2 separate regions of the Homo sapiens genome follow, and region 1 is linked to region 2. The links come from fine-mapping of genetic effects on gene expression. Tissue or cell type: whole blood. Region 2 holds a variant in brackets; the other region holds the start of a gene. Each region is shown on its reference strand, or each on the opposite one.

Evidence for each region. PIP is the estimated chance that this variant, and not a neighbour inherited with it, causes the effect.
Region 1: it holds the start of HGD, and the variant in region 2 is the best candidate, but not a certain one, in a credible set for the expression of HGD in whole blood (TOPMed, PIP 0.59).

Annotation. Positions count from the first base shown.
Region 1 is chr3:120,679,983-120,685,366 of GRCh38, reverse strand. It overlaps HGD (homogentisate 1,2-dioxygenase), which reads left to right and starts at 3,128. Exons shown (of 14, transcript NM_000187.4): 1 at 3,128-3,270. The coding sequence starts at 3,256. RABL3 (RAB, member of RAS oncogene family like 3) reads left to right here. Exons shown (of 8, transcript NM_173825.5): 8 at 1-429.
Region 2 is chr12:8,006,286-8,011,669 of GRCh38, reverse strand. No RefSeq gene overlaps it. Among named protein-coding and RNA genes, the nearest start is that of FOXJ2, 24 kb to the left of the region's middle. The variant A/G (reference allele first, on the strand shown) is at 2,166.

The DNA of each region.
Region 1 (5,384 bases), not on the chromosome of region 2:
AAACTCCAACCAAGGTGTAAAACCTCGCTCAGTACCATCAAGTATATCAGGTAATCTCTCCGTTCCATCTTTTTCTCGGAGACATCTGTCCTGGAGTCCTCTGATGCCTAACTCCGTTTTGGAGTGATTACTCTGTAGACCTGTCACACCCTGCTTCACATTACCTTGTAGCAATTCCTGGATGTAATGTTTTCCACTTTCTATCCAACTCTTACTCTATGGGACTTGGCTCAGACATAGTCTTCTCTGGGAAGCCCTCCCTGGCTCTGCTCGTCTGGGCTACGTGCCCACTAGTGCTTCCCCTAGATCCCTGGGCTCTTTCCTGTCAGAGCACTTACACTATGTTGTGATGGTTTTCAAAAATTGTTAAATAAATGAATGTATAATTACATTAATTAAAATGGAAAGCCATTAGACATAGAATCAGAACTTATCTGTAGCTGTGTAAGTTATTTATTCTCCAATCCCAGCAGGACATGATGGCTTATGCCTGTAATTCCAATACTTTGGGAGGCTGAGGCCAGAGGATGGCTTATGCCTGGGAGTTAAAGGCTGCAGTGAGCTGTGATGATGCCACTGCACTCCAGCTTGGATGACACAGCAAGACTCTGTCTCTAAAAAAAAACATTAAGTCAGGTGCAGGAGTTCACGTCTGTAATCCCAGCACTTTGGGAGGCTGAAGTGGGAGGATTGCTTGAGCCTAGGAGTTCAAGTTCAGCCTGGGCAACATGACGAGACCTCATCTCTACTAAAAAATTTTTAAAGTAGCCGGGTGTGGTGGTGTGTGCCTGTAGTCCCAGCTACTCAGGAGGCTGAGATGGGAGGATCGCTTTAGCCCAGGAGGTTGAGGCTTCAGTGAGCCATTTTTGTGCCACTGCACTCCAGCCTGGATGACAGAGAACCTGTCTCAAAAAAAAAATTAAATAATAAAATAATATTTTAATATCCCCTGTGTGTATTCTCTCCTTTTAGAAGGAATCCCTAAAGTTTAGTGAAAGATGTATTCAACTTTAAATATTTTCAAGCCCCTCAAAGTAATTTTAATCCAGTCAAGGAACTGTTAACACTTTCTTACCCCTTCAGAAGTCTCTCATACCTTAGGAAAGAACTGAAACACTTCTTAAATCTGCCTTCACAACTGGTTCAATGGAAGTAACATAGAAAGTTTGTTGAAAAATAAGGCAGTAAAGATTTCCCTTTGTCTTTTATTAGCTCCCATTTGTTTATCTAATGACCAACTGCTAACTTCCAAGATCAATAGAGATTGAAGGCCCAAGGTACTCATAAACTTAGATACACAGGAGATATTTTCTTCGAATTCAGTTTCAGAGTCTGCATGTTATAGGAATAGTGAAAACTTAGCCTCAATAAAGCTAGGGCCTCCACCTACCTTCCTCCTAGGTTTGCATATGAATTCCAGAATAGTTTATATAATGCCACAATGCCATCTGTCTATGCTGACATATGCTGAGGTTTCCTATCAGCTGCCCGGTCCGTAGGCATCAGTCCACATGGTTTGCTACCAGCATGTTTCCTATCAACATGTCCCCTTTGGTCTGGCCCAGTCTGTGCTAGCACCTCATACACAGGCAATAATTCTGCTGCTACTGCAGTATGCTGGAGCCTGGGGACCCTTGGAGGTTGTTTAAGCCCATTTATCTAAAGCAGAGGGTCTCAAACTAGCAGCCTGTGGCCACTTCAAATATGCACATGTTTTTCAACCTGCATGATTATATCAGTTATTTATCACTGCTTAACAAACCACCCCAAAATTTAGTAGTGTGAAATACACCATTCTATTTGTTCCCAATTCTGTGGCTCAGCAGTTCGGGCCAGATTTAACTGGTGGTTCTTCTGCTGGTCTTGCCTGGGATCACACATGTTCTGCAGTCACCTGGCAGCCAGACTGCCTCATTCACATGTCTGGCAGTTCCTGTGGGGCTTGCAGGGCTGTTGCCTGGACCTCTGGAGGCCAGCCCAGCTTCTCTGCACTGTGGTCTCAGGCTGCAAGAATGGGCCCTGTCCTAAGGCACAGGCATGTTTCAAACTCTGTGTCATGTTTGCTACTAGCCAAAGAAAAAGACCCTACCTCTTGATGGGAGGAACAGCAAAGTCACATTCAAAGGGGCACACATACAAGGATAGGAGGAATTGGAGCATTTTTTGCCATCTACCACAGGGTGGTTTCTCTGTCTCTCTCACTCTAATTACCAATGGTTAAAAATTGGAGCTTCATCTTATCTTGAAAAATCAGCTAGCCTACTTTATTCACTTACACTTCCTCCCTCATCTGTTGGCATTTGAGTTGTGATAATGCCTAATTTACAAGATTGTTTTTGTGAAGTTAGATATGGAAAAATCTGACAAAAGCAGAAACTCAATATATGTTTTCTCCTTTCTGAACACCACTAGTCATGAAGCTGCTACCTGCCAATGACCAAGGAGAGCGGCCAAGATGAAGAACAAGGGAGTCATAGAGGAGGTGGCTGGAGAATAATCCCTTGGTCTGTTTTAGAAGTATAGAGGCATTAGGAAACAAAACTCTTAAAGAATTTATAAGAAAACTAAACGTACTTTAAGAAATTAAAAGGAGCAGTAGGAAACATATCAGTTTGCTCTAAGTGAAATATCTCAGGCTCTGAATGGTTCACCCAAGAACCTGAGCTCATTCCTGGGAGGCACCTGCAGAAAACTGGTTCTGGTCCTGGTCCCTGTCTTCAGGTGGCTGTGTGTAAACATCTTACCCCAGTGTACACATCTGCAGCTGGTAAATGCCTGGGGGTTTTCTCACTGCTCTCCAGGAGACTCAGCACTGCCCTGTTCCTTCCTAGCCTGAGTCAGGACTGAGCAGAGAATCCTCCACCACACACAGCAGGCACTATCTGCCACAGTTCCTTTCCCCGATAGCTTCAAATTCTCTGCCTTTTGAAATAAGCCTACTTTTAACTGGAATAAATAATTGGTCAATCTCTACCTCAGGTGAAGAGGAACCAAGCCTCTGGAAACACTTAGGAACAAACTGTAAAAACCAAAGGCAATTGTGTAACCGGTTAAATAAGCTTGCTGGACTTTGTCCCTGTGTATGAGTTAGACAATTCTTTCAGCTAGTTTGAGTGACGCACTGACCAGTGAAGCGCAGTGAAGCAGTGGGAACCGGAATATCCAAAGAGTGGTTTGAAGGAGAAAGAAGCATTGTGGCTTTATATCCTCTGGGCCTGGGTTTCCTGAAGTCACCACACATAGAGGAGAGAGAAAATGGCTGAGTTAAAGGTAAGAAACCATCTGACAAGTTTGCTATGGCTTCTTCAGCCAAAATTTATGGAAGTTTCTGAGAACTTCAGGGTATCAGAGTTGGAAAAGACTTAGAGAGGCCCTGGTTCAAACCCCTGTGTTCAGAGGCTTCCCTGTGGTGTCTGTGGGCACAGCTGGAGCTGAAGAACAAGGGAAAGGTGATAAAGGAAAGAAATGAAGCTCTTATTGGTCATCCCTTGCCTTTGTTCATTTCAATTATTGTCTTGGAAATCTGTAGACATCCTAAGAGCTCCCCTCCACTACGGACATGCACGTTTCTCTCTATGTCTTTTTCCCAACCCCTGCTCTGACACCTTCCCATTGCTGCAGCCTCATGGACCACTTCCGGTGACCAGTTAGATATGCTTGATCTATTTAGTTAATTAAGGCTCTGAATCAGCCCTTGGCCAGAAGAAGCACCTCCTCTAGGAAATCATTCCTTCTTTTTAGTAATACGCAATTGAAAAGTATGTGTGGGTTATGTGCTGTTAGGTGCTAAGCATTTTAGCTATGAATTAACTCATAATCCTCAAAATAAATCTGGGGTATAGAGAGAGGTTCTTGTTTCAATTAGAAAAGTAATGCTTGGAGAGACTATGATTTGCCCAAGGTCACTGCCAATAGATGACTTGATTAGAAGCAGGGTATGTTTGAATGCGAAGTCCAGGCTCAAAAAGGGGCCTTAGTGGCTCCTACTAGACTGGTATCTTAAGGCAAGGAAAACAGAATATGTCCCTAATATCTAAAACCATGCCTAGTGCCCAGGCCAGGCTTGAATCAATGCTCAACGCATGCATGTGTAACTGAACAGAACTGCCCAGAACCTTGGCTCAGGCCAAGTAGGCCAGACCACCCCACAACAGACATCTTCCCTGAATGCAGGGTTTGAGAAGTGCCCTAATGCCCTCTAACTGATGCTGAGTTTGAAGAATCCATCAGTTAAGGGGAGGTGTTTCTGAGTTTGAAGAATCAAACACCTTCCTAATTGGTAGGAATCCTGAAAACACTCCACACCGGAGTAAAAGACTTTGGTTTTTTATCTTTATGCCTGACTAAAAGTTAACTCTCATTCTTTCATTCAGCAAATATTTTGTGCTAGTGCATGACACTGCAGATTAATATCGTAGATGAACTGAGTCTGGGCTAGGTAGAGTCAAAAAAAAATTTCCTAAAGGAGCCTGTACCTAAACTGAGTCTTCAGAGAGAAGTTGGAACTGGCAAAGTGAGGAAGGACGGGGTCTGGAGGGAAGAGTGAGTGCAAAGGCACAGCACATACAGAATGCCTGCATGCTCTAGAATCCAAAACTGTGTCAGCCAAATTTGAGTTGATGGAGGGACAGCCAAACTGAGATACCCAGGCGGTGGTTGGATTTATGGATCTGGATTTCAGGGGAGTGGGCAGGGCTAGGGGAATAGAACTGAGGGTCATGATGTCAGTGGTAGGAGTTGAAGTCTTGGAAGAAAGAGTAGATAGAAACTTTGTTTTCTGATGAACATTCTATGAGGAAGTTCAGCAGAGGTTGGAAACATCTTTACCATTTATAAATAAATTTTATGTAAAATCCTATCCTGCTGTCATGTTTAAGCAACTTATTATGCACAGCACCAGGACATCAATGTAAATTGCATGCCAGTCTTTGCTCTCAGTTTCAAAGGCATTCTTCCCTGCCTGCTGTCTAATCTTTACAAAGAAAGGTTAACTCCAGAGGTCAGGAATCTGAACACAGAAAACCAGATTGCATCATATTCATTCTAATCAATAAACATTATATAATTTTTAAAACTGTTTCTCATCTTTTATTTCTTCATTTTAATGAATATGTCAACACAAAGCCGTAAATGAAATCACATTTACACAAAAGTACAACTGGGGTAAGAAAATTCAAAAGATAAAGTAATAAAATTAAATTTAAAATGAAATACCCTATGTATTTGAGTAAGTTGCTTAGCTTCTCCCAACCTTGGTTTCCTCATTTCTAAAACGAAGAACTTGCTTAATATTCAGGCTCTGGGCCCCACCACCAAATCCTTGATTCACTGGCTCTGGGTCTGTATGTAACAAGCTTCTGGAGTGATTCTAATGATTAGCCAGA
Region 2 (5,384 bases):
AGTGCTGAGATTACAGGCGTGAGCCAGCACGCCCGGCTTATTCAAGTATTTTTTTCTCTAACAAAGCAATTTACAGGTTAATTTTCTGGGAAGATATAGTAGTTCTTTATGACTCATTCATTCAAATATTTCTCAAGTAGCTATTATACTACAGGCACTGTTGGTGCCTGGGACTGCCCTGATAGAGAAGGAAATGATAAATTCTAAGAAGAAAAATAAAGCAAGATAAGGGGATAAAAAATGGTGGAATGGTTAGAGAGGAAGGATACTGATTATTCTAAATACAGGCACACCTCAGAGATAGTGCAGGTTTGTTTCCAGACAACTGTGATAAAGCTAGTATTCAATAAAGTGAATCATAGAAATATTTTGGCTTCCCAGTGCACGTAAAAGTTATGTTTACACTATACTGTAGTCTGTTAAGGGTACAATAGCATTGTGTCTAAAAAAAATGTATATACCTTAATTTAAAAATACTTTCTTGCGGCCGGGCGTGGGGGCTCACGCCTGTAATCCTAGCACTTTGGGAGGCCAAGGTGCGTGAATCACTTGAGGTCAGGAGTTCAAAACCAGCCTGGCTGACATGGTGAAACCCCGTCTTTACAAAAAATACAAAAAAATTATCTGGGCGTGGTGGCGGGAGCCTGTAATCCCAGCTACTCAGGAGGCTGAGGCCGGAGAATCGCTTGAATCCAGGAGGAGGAGGAGGTTGCAGTGAGCTGACGTCACACCACTACACTCCAGCCTGGGCGACCGAACAAGACTCTATCTCGAAAAAATATAAAAATACAGCCAGGCGCGGTGGCTGACACCTGTAATCCCAGCACTTTGGGAGGCAGAGGCGGGCGGATCACCTGAGGTCAGAAGTTCGAGACCAGCCTGACCAACATGGTGAAACCCCGTCTCTACTAAAATACAAAAAAATTAGCCAGGCGTGGTGGCGCATGCCTGTAATCACAGCTGCTTGTGAGGCTGAGGCAGGAGAATCGCTTGAACGTGGGAGGCGGAGGTTGCAGTGAGCCGAGATTGCACCATTGCACTCCAGCCTGGGTGACGAGCAAAACTCTGTCTCAAAAAAATAAATAAATAGGCCGGGCACAGTGGCTCATGCCTGTAATCTCAGCACTTTGGGAGGCCGAGGCAGGCAGATCACGAGGTCAGGAGAATGAGACCATCCTGGCTAACACAGTGAAACCCCGTCTCAACTAAAAATACAAAAAATTAGCTGTGTGTGGTGGCGGGCGCCTGTAGTCCCAGCTACTCGGGAGGCTGAGGCAGGAGAATGGCATGAACCCGGGAGGCGGAGCTTGCAGTGAGCCAAGATCACGCCATCGCACTCCAGCCTGGCCTACAGAGCGAGACTCCATCTCAAAAATAAATAAATAAATAAATAAATAAATAAATAAATAAATAAAAGTTAAAAATACTTTCTTGCTAAAAAAAAATGCTAACAATCACCTGAGCCTTGAGCGTGTCACAATCTTTTTGCTGGTGGAGGGTCTTGCCTCAACGTTGATGGCTGCTGACTGATCAGGGTCGTGGTCGCCGAAGGCTGGGGGTGGTGGTAGCAATTTCTTTAAATAAGACAATAATAGCCAGGCGCGGTGGCTCACACCTGTAATCCTAGCACTTTGGGAGGCCGAGCGGGGTGGATCACGAGGTCAGGAGATCAAGACCATGCTGGCTAACATGGTGAAACCCCGTGTCTACTAAAAATACAAAAAAAAAAAAAAAATTAGCCAGGCATGGTGGCAGGTGCCTGTAGTCCCAGCTACTCGGGAGGCTAAGGCAAGAGAATGGCGTGAACCCGGGAGGCAGAGCTTGCAGTGAGCTGAGATCGCGCCACTGCACTCCAGACTGGGTGACTGAGCAAGACTCCATCTCAAAATAATAATAAGAAGAAGAAGAAGAATTGCTGCATCTATTAACTCTTATTTTCGCGAAAGAGTTCTCTGAATCATGTGATGCTGTTTGATAGCATTTTCCCCACAGTAGAACTTCTTTCATAATTGGAGTCAGTTCTCTCACACCCTGTTACTGCTTTATTAACTAAATTTATGTAATATTTGAAATCCTTTGTTGCCATTTCAACAATATTCACAGGCTGTTTACTAGGAGTAGATTCCATGTTAAGAACCACTTTCTTTGCTTATCCATAAGAAGCA[A/G]CTCCTCATCCATTCAAGTTTTCTCATGAGATTGCAACAATTCAGCCTTATCTTCAGGCTCCACTTCTAATTCTAGTTCTCTTGCTATTTCTGCAGTTACTTCTGCAGTTACTTCCTCCACTCAAGTCTTGAACCCATCAAAGTCATCCATGAGGGTTGGAATCAACTTCTTCCAAACTCCTGTTAATGTTGATATTTTGAGCTCCTCCCATGAATTATGAATGTTCTTTTTTTAAAAATTTGGTGGTAGGAAATTCTTTTTTTATTTATTTATTTTTGAGGCAGAGTTTCACTCCCATCACGCAGGCTGGAGTGCAGTGGTATGATCACACCATGCCCAGCCAATAAGTTAAGCATTAGAAAAAAAAAAATCAGTAAACCATACTTACTGCAACCTCAACTTCCCAGGCTGAGGTGATCCTCCCACCTCAGCCTCCCATGTAGCTGGGACTACAGGCACCTGCCACTGTGTCCCACCTCTCCCCCGACCTAATTTTTTCTATTTTTAGTAGATACAGGGTTTCACCACGTTGCCCAGGCTGGTCTCAAACTCTCGGACTCAAGCCCAGCTTAGACTCAAGCAAGCAATATGACTGCCTCTGCCTCCCAAAGCATTGGGATTACAGGAATGAGCCACCATGCCTGGCCACAAATGTTCTTAATGGCATCTAGAATGGTGAATCCTCTCCAGAAGATTTTCAATTTATTTTGCCCATATCCATCCAAGAAGTCACTATCTATGGTGGTTATAAGCCATATGAAATATATCTCTTAAATAATAAAACTTGAAAGTCAGAATTACTCCTTGATCTGTGGGCTGCCACCTGAATGCAATATTAACAGGTATGAAAACAACATCAGTCTTCTTGTATGTCTCCATCAAAGCTCTTGGATGACTAGGTGTGTTGCCAGTAAGCAGTAATATGTTGAAAGGAATCTTTTTCTCTGAGCAGTAAATCTAAATATTCAGTAAATTCCAACTTAAAAATGGCAAAATATCTAAATAGACATTTCTCAAAGAAGACATACAAATGTTTATTGCAGCACCATTCACAACAGTCAAGATTTGGAATCAACCTAAGTGTCCATTAACAGATGAATGGGTAAAGAAAATGTGCTCTGTGTGTGTGTGTGTGTGTGTATATATGTGTGTGTGTGTGTGTGTGTGTGTATATATGCACACACACAATGGAGTACTATTCAACCATAAAAAAGAATGAGAACCTGTCATTGGCAACAACGTGGATGAAACTAGAGGCCATCATGTTAAGTGAAATAAGCCAGGCACAGAAAGACAAACTTTACATGTTCTTACTCATTTGTGGGAACTAAACATTAAAACAATTGAACTTATGGAGATAGAGTATATAATGATGATTACTAGAGGCTGAGATCAGTAGTGGAGGCGGGAGGAGTGGGTATGGCTCATGGGTACAAAAATATAGTTAAGCCTGGCCAACTTGGCAAAACCCCGTCTCTACTAAAAATACAAAAAATTAGCCGGGCGTGGTGGTGCACACCTGTAGTCTCAGCTACTCAGGAGGCTGAGGCATGAGAATTGCTTAAACTTGTGAGCCGGAGGTTGCAGTGAGCCAAGATCACATCACTGCACTTCAGCCTGGGTGACAAAACAAGACTGTGTCTCAAATGTGTATATATATATTTAAATAGGGTGAATAAGATGTAGTATTTGATGGCACAACAGGGTGACTACAGTAAACAGTTTATTGTACACTTAAAAATAAAAAGTATAATTGGAAAGTTTGTGACACAAAGAAATCATAAATGCTTGAAGTGATAGATACCTCATTTATCCTGATGTGATTATTACACATTGTATACTTGTATTAAAATATCTCATGTGCCCCATAAATGTATACACCTACTATACACCCATAAAAATTAATTTTTTTAATTGGTGGAGTCTCACTATGTTGCTCAGGCTGGTATCGAACTCCTGGGCTCAAGCAGTCTTCCCACCTCAGCCTCCCAAAGTGCTGGGATTACAGGTGTAAGCCACCATGCCCAGCCAATAAGTTAAAAATTAAAAAAAAAAAAAAAACAATTCAGTAAACCATGCTATAAACAGATATGCTGTCATCCAGGCTTTGTTGTTCCATTTATAGGGCATAAGCCGAGCAGATTTACATAATGAAGCTAATGCCCCTAAAAAGAGAGTCAGCCTATCATTTGAAGCTGTGAAATCAGATATTGACTTCTCCTTCCTGGCTATAAAAGTCCTAGATGGCATCTTCTTCCAATATAAGGCTGTTTCATCTACACTGAAAATCTGTCGTTAAGTGTTGCCACTTTTGTTAATTATCTTAGCTAGATCTTCTGGATAATTTGTTGCAGCTTCTATATCAGCAGGTGCTGCTTCACCTTGCACTTTTAGGTTATAAAGACAGCTTCTTAAATTTCACGAACCAAATTCTGGTACCTTCTAACTTTTCTTCTGCAGCTTCCTCACCTCTCTCAACCTCCATAAAATTAAAGAAAATTGGCTGGGCACAGTGGCTCACGCCTGTAATCCCAGCACTTTGGGAGGCTGAGGCAGGTGGATCACCTGAGGTCAGGAGTTTGAGACCAGCCTGGCCAACATGTCGAAACCCTATGTCTACTGAAAAATACAAAAATTAGCTAGGCATGACAGGCACCTGTAAGCCCAGCTACTTGGGAGGCTGAGGCAGGAGAATCGCTTGAACCCAGGAGGCGGAGGTTGCAGTGAGCCGAGATTGCGCCACTGCACTCCAGCTTGGGCAACAGAGCAAGGCTCCATCTCAAAAAAAAAAAAAAAAAAAATTTAAAGACAGTTAGGGCCCTCCTCTGGATTAGGCTTTGGCTTAAGAGAATGTTTTTTGTTGTTAGTTTGTTTTGTTTTTTTTTTCGAGACAGAGTTTCACTCTTGTTGCCCAGGCTGGAGTGCAATGGCATGATCTTGGCTCACCGCAACCTCCGCCTCCTGGGTGCAAGTGATTCTCCTGCCTCAGGCTCCCAAGTAGCTGGGATTACAGGAATGCACCACCACGTCCGGCTAATTTTGTATTTTTAGTAGAGATGGGACTTCTCCATGTTGGTCAGGCTGGTCTCAAACTCCCGACCTCAGGTGATCCACCCTCCTCAGCCTCCCAAAGTGCTGAGATTACAGGAGTGAGCCACCGTGCCTGGCTTTTTTTGTTTTTCTTTGGGTTTTGTTTTGAGACAGAGTTTTGCGCTTGT